Homo sapiens: one gene and its partner. Each later gene encodes a partner of the first gene's protein in a complex. Each region holds a gene or a part of one and is shown on either strand. Other genes may lie near its edges. The genes, in order: LMOD2 and TPM1. A codon is read from its position in the direction of its gene.

What was found.
Region 2: the proteins of LMOD2 (region 1) and TPM1 are in contact, whole or in part, in an NMR structure (PDB 6UT2), measured with the Homo sapiens proteins. Residues at the interface, in NP_997046.1 of Homo sapiens: Lys12, Tyr13, Leu21, Leu22, Leu25, Glu29, Glu32, Leu33, Arg35, Glu36, Leu37, Asp39, Ile40, Glu41; in NP_001018005.1 of Homo sapiens: Met1 (codon at 1,807), Ile4 (codon at 1,816), Lys5 (codon at 1,819), Met8 (codon at 1,828), Gln9 (codon at 1,831), Met10 (codon at 1,834), Leu11 (codon at 1,837), Lys12 (codon at 1,840), Asp14 (codon at 1,846).

Annotation. Positions count from the first base shown.
Region 1 is NC_000007.14:123,658,862-123,662,772, reverse strand, and holds part of LMOD2 (leiomodin-2), read right to left. Parts: intron 914-3,911; coding exon 1-913. UniProt on the Homo sapiens protein: Mediates nucleation of actin filaments and thereby promotes actin polymerization. Plays a role in the regulation of actin filament length. Required for normal sarcomere organization in the heart, and for normal heart function.
Region 2 is NC_000015.10:63,041,024-63,044,934, forward strand, and holds the start of TPM1 (tropomyosin alpha-1 chain), read left to right. Parts: upstream 1-1,723; 5' UTR 1,724-1,806; coding exon 1,807-1,920; intron 1,921-2,682; coding exon of another isoform or gene 2,683-2,808; intron 2,809-2,970; exon of another isoform or gene 2,971-3,003; coding exon 3,004-3,129; intron 3,130-3,911. UniProt on the Homo sapiens protein: Binds to actin filaments in muscle and non-muscle cells. Plays a central role, in association with the troponin complex, in the calcium dependent regulation of vertebrate striated muscle contraction.

The DNA of each region.
Region 1 (3,911 bases):
AGTGCCTGGGAGATACATAAGGTGAAGAGCTAGGTGTTCCTCTTTGCCAGACTTTGGTCCTAAGATTGGGTCCTCCATCGTATCCCTCCTGCTGTTTTTGCTCCTGCAAACGTTTTTGCCTCTGTTTATCCATATTTCTTGTCAAAATGCTCGTCATGCTCATTCTTGGTCCTGGGAGTTCAAAATGGTATCCCAGCCTCAGCAGCGTCGTGTTCTCCTTCAGCAGCTTGACAATCTCCATTTCCACCTGGCTGCCCATGATGTGCCTCTGGTTATGGAAACGCAGCTCCGTGAGCACCGTGTTGTGCTGGAGAGCTCTCATGATGGCCAGGATCCCCTTTCCCGTTATGAAGTTGGACTCGACGTTTACGTTGGTGATGTGCTCATTGACTTTGAGCATCTCTGCAATGGCCATGGCTGCACTGTCGTCGGCATGCGTGTTGGCCAGACTGAACGTCTTCACCACAGTGTTGTCCTTGAGGGCTTCAGCAAAGCGGGTAAGGGTCTGTGTTGTGATGTTCTCAATGTTGTTCAAATTGACTTCTGTGGTGTCAGGGTCATTGCTTTTAATCTTGTCCAAAGCGTCCTCAATCACTGTAGGATTTCCACAAGGGTGAATGGCAGCTGGGGACTCTGTGTTCCTCCCATTGCTGCCATTGGTCAAATTTATGTTCTCTATTTGACTTTTAAATATCTTTGGCTTAGAGTTGTCAGAATTGACACTATCATAATTTACAGTTCCATTAATCCCTTTTGCAGTTTCAATTGTTCTTTCCTCTTCGTCACTGTCTTCTTCCTCCTCTTCCTCCTGGGACTCCTCCTCCTCCTCCTCTGTATACACTTCCTCAGAAACCTCACTGTTACTTTCAGTAAAGATAAGCTCTTCTTCACTTTCCTCTTTGTCTTCTGCAACCTAAAGAGTATGATATCATCATTAAGCTTCTTAAAAATGATACCATTTTTAAGTACATTTTTTAACTTGCAAAAGTAGCACATGGCAAGTGACATAAGTTTATAATAAAAAAAGTTAATAATCCTCTGCTTCCATTCTGTCTAGTTCTCATGACCAAGGCTGACATTTTATTGCAATAAATAGCAATAGCTTTTTCTACAAACATTTCTCTTGTTTTCTGCAGAATATCCAGAATTCAACTTATTGAATAAAAATATATAATCATTTTGCTAATTTGAACAAATAAATCAGAACTTCAGCTTTGGAAAACCCTTGATAAATTTGTTCACCTCCTGAGGACCGACTCTTACTGGTTTACTCTCCATTTACTTACAATGTAGCAAATTCAACCCTCCCTTCTGGAATCACTCTGTTCTTTCTTATTTCTCCATCTCAAGCAATCAAATGACAACAAAAATATACAATATGTTAATGAGTTTCCCTTTTTAATTCAAAAATTCCCAAATTTTCCATCCATAGCAGATGTGACAGAAGCCAACCACTCTCTGCCAGGCCTTGCCTCAGTGTAGACAGAAGCAGAGCTGTCATTTGCTCCTCCAGCATTTATTTATCTGCTTCTACGGTAGAGCCCGGCACAGGGCTCTACCACAGAAGACTCTCTGAATCACCTGAGAGCTGCCTCTGTAGCTGTCCCTTATCTGGGCAAGGGAAGCCTAAAGGCAGGGCTGCTGCTCAGGACAGCAGGAGGTCAAAATCCAGTTCGATGCAGAGAAAACATTCAGGTCACCCTTTTGGGAAAATCAACTTGAAACCTCCAACTAGTCCAGGGTTAAATGAGACAGACTGTAGAAGACCAGGTGGGAAAGATAATCACCCTTGGCATCCACTAGATTCTAATCAGTAAAGTGGATGGAACAGCAGAGAACAGCAGAAAATCTTGAAGTAAGCCATTGCCCAGCCTGAAGGTCTTAAATTATTTAGCATGTATCAATTATGAAAGGCTTTCAGGCAAACACAATTTCATTCTATCTTTGTCTTTCCTGTTTACAAGATTTGCTGTACAAAGACGCTCAAGTGACCCCTTGTTTCTCTTTTTCTTGCTATCTTTTCTGATTAAAAAAAAAAAAGGTCTAGAAATTGCTGACAGAGTCTAATCTTTTTCTCCTGCTGTCTTTTTAGTCCTTTCTCTTTATCTTCTCTACAGCCCTGGGACCCTGCCCTGTCCTCCAGGCCCTGATTCTTCTCTCTATATTGGCAACTTTTTTTTTTTTGACCTCGAGGGCGCCCGCTGCCTGAAGCATGTAGATCTAGCTTTGGAAAACACTGCCCTTGTCTCCAGGTTCGTTTGCCCAGTTGCTATCACAAAATAGCCTCCAGTTATCCACTGTTTGGAGTGGCAGGCACCGAGTGATGGCCTGGGGAAGGGGTCAGCCACTCCTGGGATGACTTTTCCAGTCTTAATTTATTCACTTCTTCAGGAGCAGGGAGGGAGAGAGAGAGATACTCTGTGTGTCTCTGTGTGTGTGTGTGTGTGTGAGAGAGAGAGAGAGAGGGAGAGAGAGAGAGAGAGAGAAAGAGAGAGAAATGTTTGGTGGCAGCTGGCTGCAAGTCACAATGCAACAACATAAGAAAAAGAGTGTGGCTCTAGCCAAGTCTCCAGGCATACGTGAGGGAAGAGAGGAAGCCTTCCCTGTCCAGCAGTGAAACAAATGGATTAACCCGAGGAAGGAAAGAATTGTGGGCTGACTTCTCCTCACCCCATTCCACTCCAAATTCCTTATAATTCTAGTCCCTGTAAAGCTGTGTGTGTTCATGTGTTTGTATGTATTTTTAGCTGTTTCAGTATTTGGAGGAAAGGGGCCTGTCTCAAAATCCAAGGTATACGGCCTTGTATGACACCATTACATTTTACTCCCTTTGGTTTTTTAAAGACCCTCTGGCTCTATCTGCAAGATCTGTTTTCCCCTTATAATGTACCTGGACAGATAATATCTGAAACTGTGAATTGTCATATAGCATCTAAATGATAGATCTCCCAGAAAGCCTTCTTTGACATCCTCTCCAAATATCCCTCAGACGCATTCCCATACCATTGTACCCACCCCCAATAAAGTACCTGTCGCACTTTATTTTGGTCACTTGTTTTTCCCAGCAGACTGTTAGCTGTTGAGAGCAGTGGACCATGTCTGCTTTGCTCACCTAGCACAGTGCTTAGCATGTAGTAGGAGCTCAATAATTATTTGCTTACTGAATGGCTCTAAGTTGACATTGGTTAACAGCAGCTGAGAGTCAGGACTACACACAGGAGAAAGGTGATAAACCCTCCCAGTTTGCCTGAGTGTGAAGGGTTTCCCAGGATTTTAGTCATGAAATCTAGATAGTTCCGGACAATCTGAGATGATTAGTCACCCTAGGTGGGGGACATCTGGAGAAAGAACAGAAGGGGAAAAGGTGTCTACAGAGGCAAGGTGAGAGGATGCAAAAAACAGACTTCGCTTACTTTATAAAATACTCTGTCCCTAGGGGGCCTGTTTTATTACAGATTTCCTATATGCCACTGCTTTGGCATTAACCCTGATTCTTTGGAGAATGGAGGTGGGAAGGAGGGTATAGAATAAGGAGGTGGGAGATGAGATGGCAAGGGACTGGACAAGGAGAAGGGGAATGTTAGTAAACTTAGAAAACAAATCAGGTAATGAGAAGAGTGGCCGGTTGTTTCTCCTGATCACCTCCCTATTATGTATGTACATATCACATTCAAAGTATGTGTTAATTGACCGTTTATGTTATTGGTAAGGCTTCTGTCCACAGTAGGCTATTAGTAGTTAAGGTTTGGGGGAGTCAAAAGTTATACATGAATTTTGGATGCTGCAGGGGCAGGAGTTGGTTCACCTGACCCCCATGTTATTCAGGAGGTAACTGTAGTTGAGCGGTTCTTAAGTTTTACTGTGTGTCATAATCACCTGTGAGAGCACCAATTGTTGGGCCCCATCCCCAG
Region 2 (3,911 bases), on another chromosome or scaffold:
AACTCCCTATTCTTGCCTCCTCTGCTGAGCTCCAACCTGGGGAGTCAGCTCCCTGGAGTCCACGCATCTGGATATCGTCCACATGCCTGGAACTTTGTCACTGTTCCGGTGGCTGGGTTGACACACCGTGATTAAAGGGCTCTGGTCAATTTCTGTGCCACGCAGCCCCTATGCTAATGGTCAGATCTAATGTTCTGACCATTAGGTCAGTGTATCTTTTCCCTCCTGGGCAGTTAGGTTAGTGGAAGAAACCCGATAAAATCTTGGAGAGGAATTTGATCATTCTCTGAAGGACTTACAAGTTGTTTGGCCTGCCTAATCTGCTCAGATACCGTCCGGGGAATATTTGGTAACCATGCAGTACAGACTGTGAATTATTCTGTGGGGACTATTAACAAGACCCTCACCAACCCTGCCTCAGCTGATCTCAGGGCTTGGGGGCAGCCCCCTCTCCTCCCCTCCCACTGAAGCTCTGAAAAAAAGCAGCCTTTCCCCCTTGGGAGATGGGAGGAGTAGTTAAAAATAAGAAGTGTTGGGGGAAATCCTCCTCCTTCCAAGCACAGCTCACACGGCAGAGCCTCCTCAGAGTTGCGGCTGCGGATGCAATGACTTAGCCAGGTTAACGCCGATCCCATGTTTTCCGAAACCTGGCACCTAAGCATCTAACATGGAAGGCCGACTCCCTAAAATCAGTGCAAGAAAAATGATAACAAGTTATATCTGGAGGGACCTCGGGGATTATCTACCCGCTGGATTTAAAGTTGAGGAAGCCGCGGGCAGCAAACAAGGTCTCACAGTTGCTGGTGGCAGAGTAGAGACCACAGACCAAATTGCCTGAGTCTAAACTCAATGTTCTTTCCCCTTAGACTGCCACCCGCACACACACGCACACATGCACACCTTTTTGGAGGCACTGCACAGCAAGCACAGAAGTACGCCACTGAGTCCTGTGTCCCTAAAGTATTTGACTGTCCCTCCGCTGGGGGAAAGGGCAGGCAGAAAACAAGACTCCGTGTGCTGTCGCTGTGCCGCCCCCTGCCTCTCTGACCCGCGCCCGCAGAGAAAGTCTCAAGAGCCGCCCCAGGCTTTCTCCCACGTTCTCCCTTTCTCTGCTGCAGTTGAGTTTCCAGAGCGTGAGCGCGCAGGATGACACCTGGCTGGCTGAGAGCTGCCGGGGAGGCGCTGGCGGGTGCCGAGAGCGCACTGACCCTGACGCGGGGTGCAGCACGGCTGGGAAGCCCCCGGGCCTTTGGCTAAGCGCGCCGGGGGACGGCACAGGGGGGCGACGCGCATCCACCACCTGGTCCGCGCTCTCCCGGCCTCCGGCAGCTCAGGGCGGGCTCGGTTGGGGACCCTAATGGCTGGGTGCCGGCCCTGGGAGAAGGGCACGCGGAGGGCGGAGGGTTGCGCCTCGGCCCCGGCTCGGCCCCAACGCCCTCTCCCTGGCGCGCAGGTTTAGAAACAGGGCGGCCTCTCCGGCCGCCGCCTCGGCGGCTCGGGTCCCCATATATAGTCATATCCACCGTCAACTGGGAGGCCGGCGGCCGGCAGCGAATGGGCGAGCGGCCCCCGCGGGAGGAGCGGGGAGGGGGCACGGGGCGGAGGGAGGAGAGGAGGAAGGGGGGCAGGAGAAAAAAGCTTTTCCAAAAAAGTATTGGCTGTCTTGAGGAATGCGGTCGCCCCCTTGGGAAAGTACATATCTGGGAGAAGCAGGCGGCTCCGCGCTCGCACTCCCGCTCCTCCGCCCGACCGCGCGCTCGCCCCGCCGCTCCTGCTGCAGCCCCAGGGCCCCTCGCCGCCGCCACCATGGACGCCATCAAGAAGAAGATGCAGATGCTGAAGCTCGACAAGGAGAACGCCTTGGATCGAGCTGAGCAGGCGGAGGCCGACAAGAAGGCGGCGGAAGACAGGAGCAAGCAGGTCTGCGCCTCCCCGGCCCTGCGCCCGCGCCCAGAGCGCCGGGACTCGAGCCTGGCACCCCCGGCTGGATCCCCACCCCGAGGACTCGGGGAGCCACCACCCTACCCCCACCACCACCCAGGGCGGCCAGGGCGCGCGTCTGGAAAGAAGGAAGGGAAACGCAAGAGCCAGGCTTAGTCTAACTTAGTCTGGTCTGAGGACGCTTATTTCCCTTCTCTGGTTCCCATGGCCCGCGAAATCAAGTCCTAGAGGCGCTTTATTCTCAGGACTGGGAATCAGTTTGGGGGAGGGAGGAGGACACCCGGTTCCTGGGGACGTTTGAAGGAAGGGCGAGGGATGGAGAAAGGGGGTCGAGTAACTCAAGTGTTAGAAGTTCGTTGACTTTTGACTGGGGAGAAAGGAACCTTAAACTTGGGGAGGAGAAGGGAGTCCTGGAGTTGTTACCTAAGAACAAAGATGGGGCGGAATGGAGGCTACAGCCCGAAAGCCAGGCCAGCAGTGGCGTTCTTCTGTGTCCCCAAGTAGTGGACTTGAGCCCGCTGAGACCTCGGCAGGAGTCTCGTCCCAGGGCAGGTGGGTGTGCGGGGTGAGCCGCGGAGCGGTTCCAGCTCGGGTAAAGAGGAAGTTACCTCGGGTCCTTTGCACTCCAACTCGGCGGCGCCCCGAGCCCGAGGGGCCCCAGCCAACCCGACGCCCGTGTGTTGTGTGTGTCTAACACCCGGTCCGTGCCGGCCGCCCGCGCCCGCCCGCCGCTGCCCCCAGCTCGAGGAGGACATCGCGGCCAAGGAGAAGTTGCTGCGGGTGTCGGAGGACGAGCGGGACCGGGTGCTGGAGGAGCTGCACAAGGCGGAGGACAGCCTCCTGGCCGCCGAAGAGGCCGCCGCCAAGGTACCCGGGGCGCGCGGCACGGCGTGGCGCACGAATGGCTAACTCTTTCTCTTTCTCTCTCTCCCTCCCTGTCTTTCCCTCTGTCTCTCCCGCTGTCCCTGTCCTTCTGGTTCTGTGCACCCACACCCCTCCCCTTCGGGATCACGCTGCCTGCTGCACCCCCCTCCCTCCCTGTACCCCCTGGCCAACTCCCAGCTGGAAGATGAGCTGGTGTCACTGCAAAAGAAACTCAAGGGCACCGAAGATGAACTGGACAAATACTCTGAGGCTCTCAAAGATGCCCAGGAGAAGCTGGAGCTGGCAGAGAAAAAGGCCACCGATGTAAGTGCACGCTCACACTGCTTCCCTCACCTCTTGCCTGCGTGGCCACTCCGGGGTCACCACAGGGCTGGAGAGCAATGAAGGAAGTTTACCTTTTCCTGCTGGACACCTGCACACAGCCCTGCCATGGCCCAGAGCATTGGATGCCGCCTCTGACTGCTACTGCACACATTCATTTATATTTCATCCACTCCTCTCTTCTTCTCCTTTCCTTTACCTCCCTGGGGGTGGAGGTGGGTGGATGAGAGGCTGGGAGAATAGAGCAGCTGAAATTGGACTCTGGAGGTGAACTTCACCTCCCTGGTGGCAGAAAACCCTTGAGGTGTCATCACCAAGGTTTGTGTAGAGAATGCCAGGTTTTCTTCACTTTCTTTCCTTTTGCCGTTTCCAGTGGGTGGGAAGTTCTGGGTTTGGTGGTGGGTCTAGTCAGGGTTCAGAGAACCTGGCCTCTAAATGAAAGAAATGACACAGCGGTACCTTTACTTAGATGGCTGCACTTCATGGTGGGGCACAGAGACACTTTGAGGCTTCCTTTCTCATTAGTGTAAGCCTTAATCCACCCCTTAAGATCTGCCTGGGAAGATGATACTTGCTTGGGTCTGCAGTCTGAAGGCACTAGATCCAGAAAGTAAGCTGTGAGTTATATATAGCTCAGTGCTTTATATGGTATAGTGAGCTAGCTGCCCCCTGCCCCTCCTGCTGGCCCCGCCCCCACCTGTCAGCCTTCTGACAACCACCACATAGTTGCAGGGGTGATGCACACAGCTAAGGCTCTCCTAAGC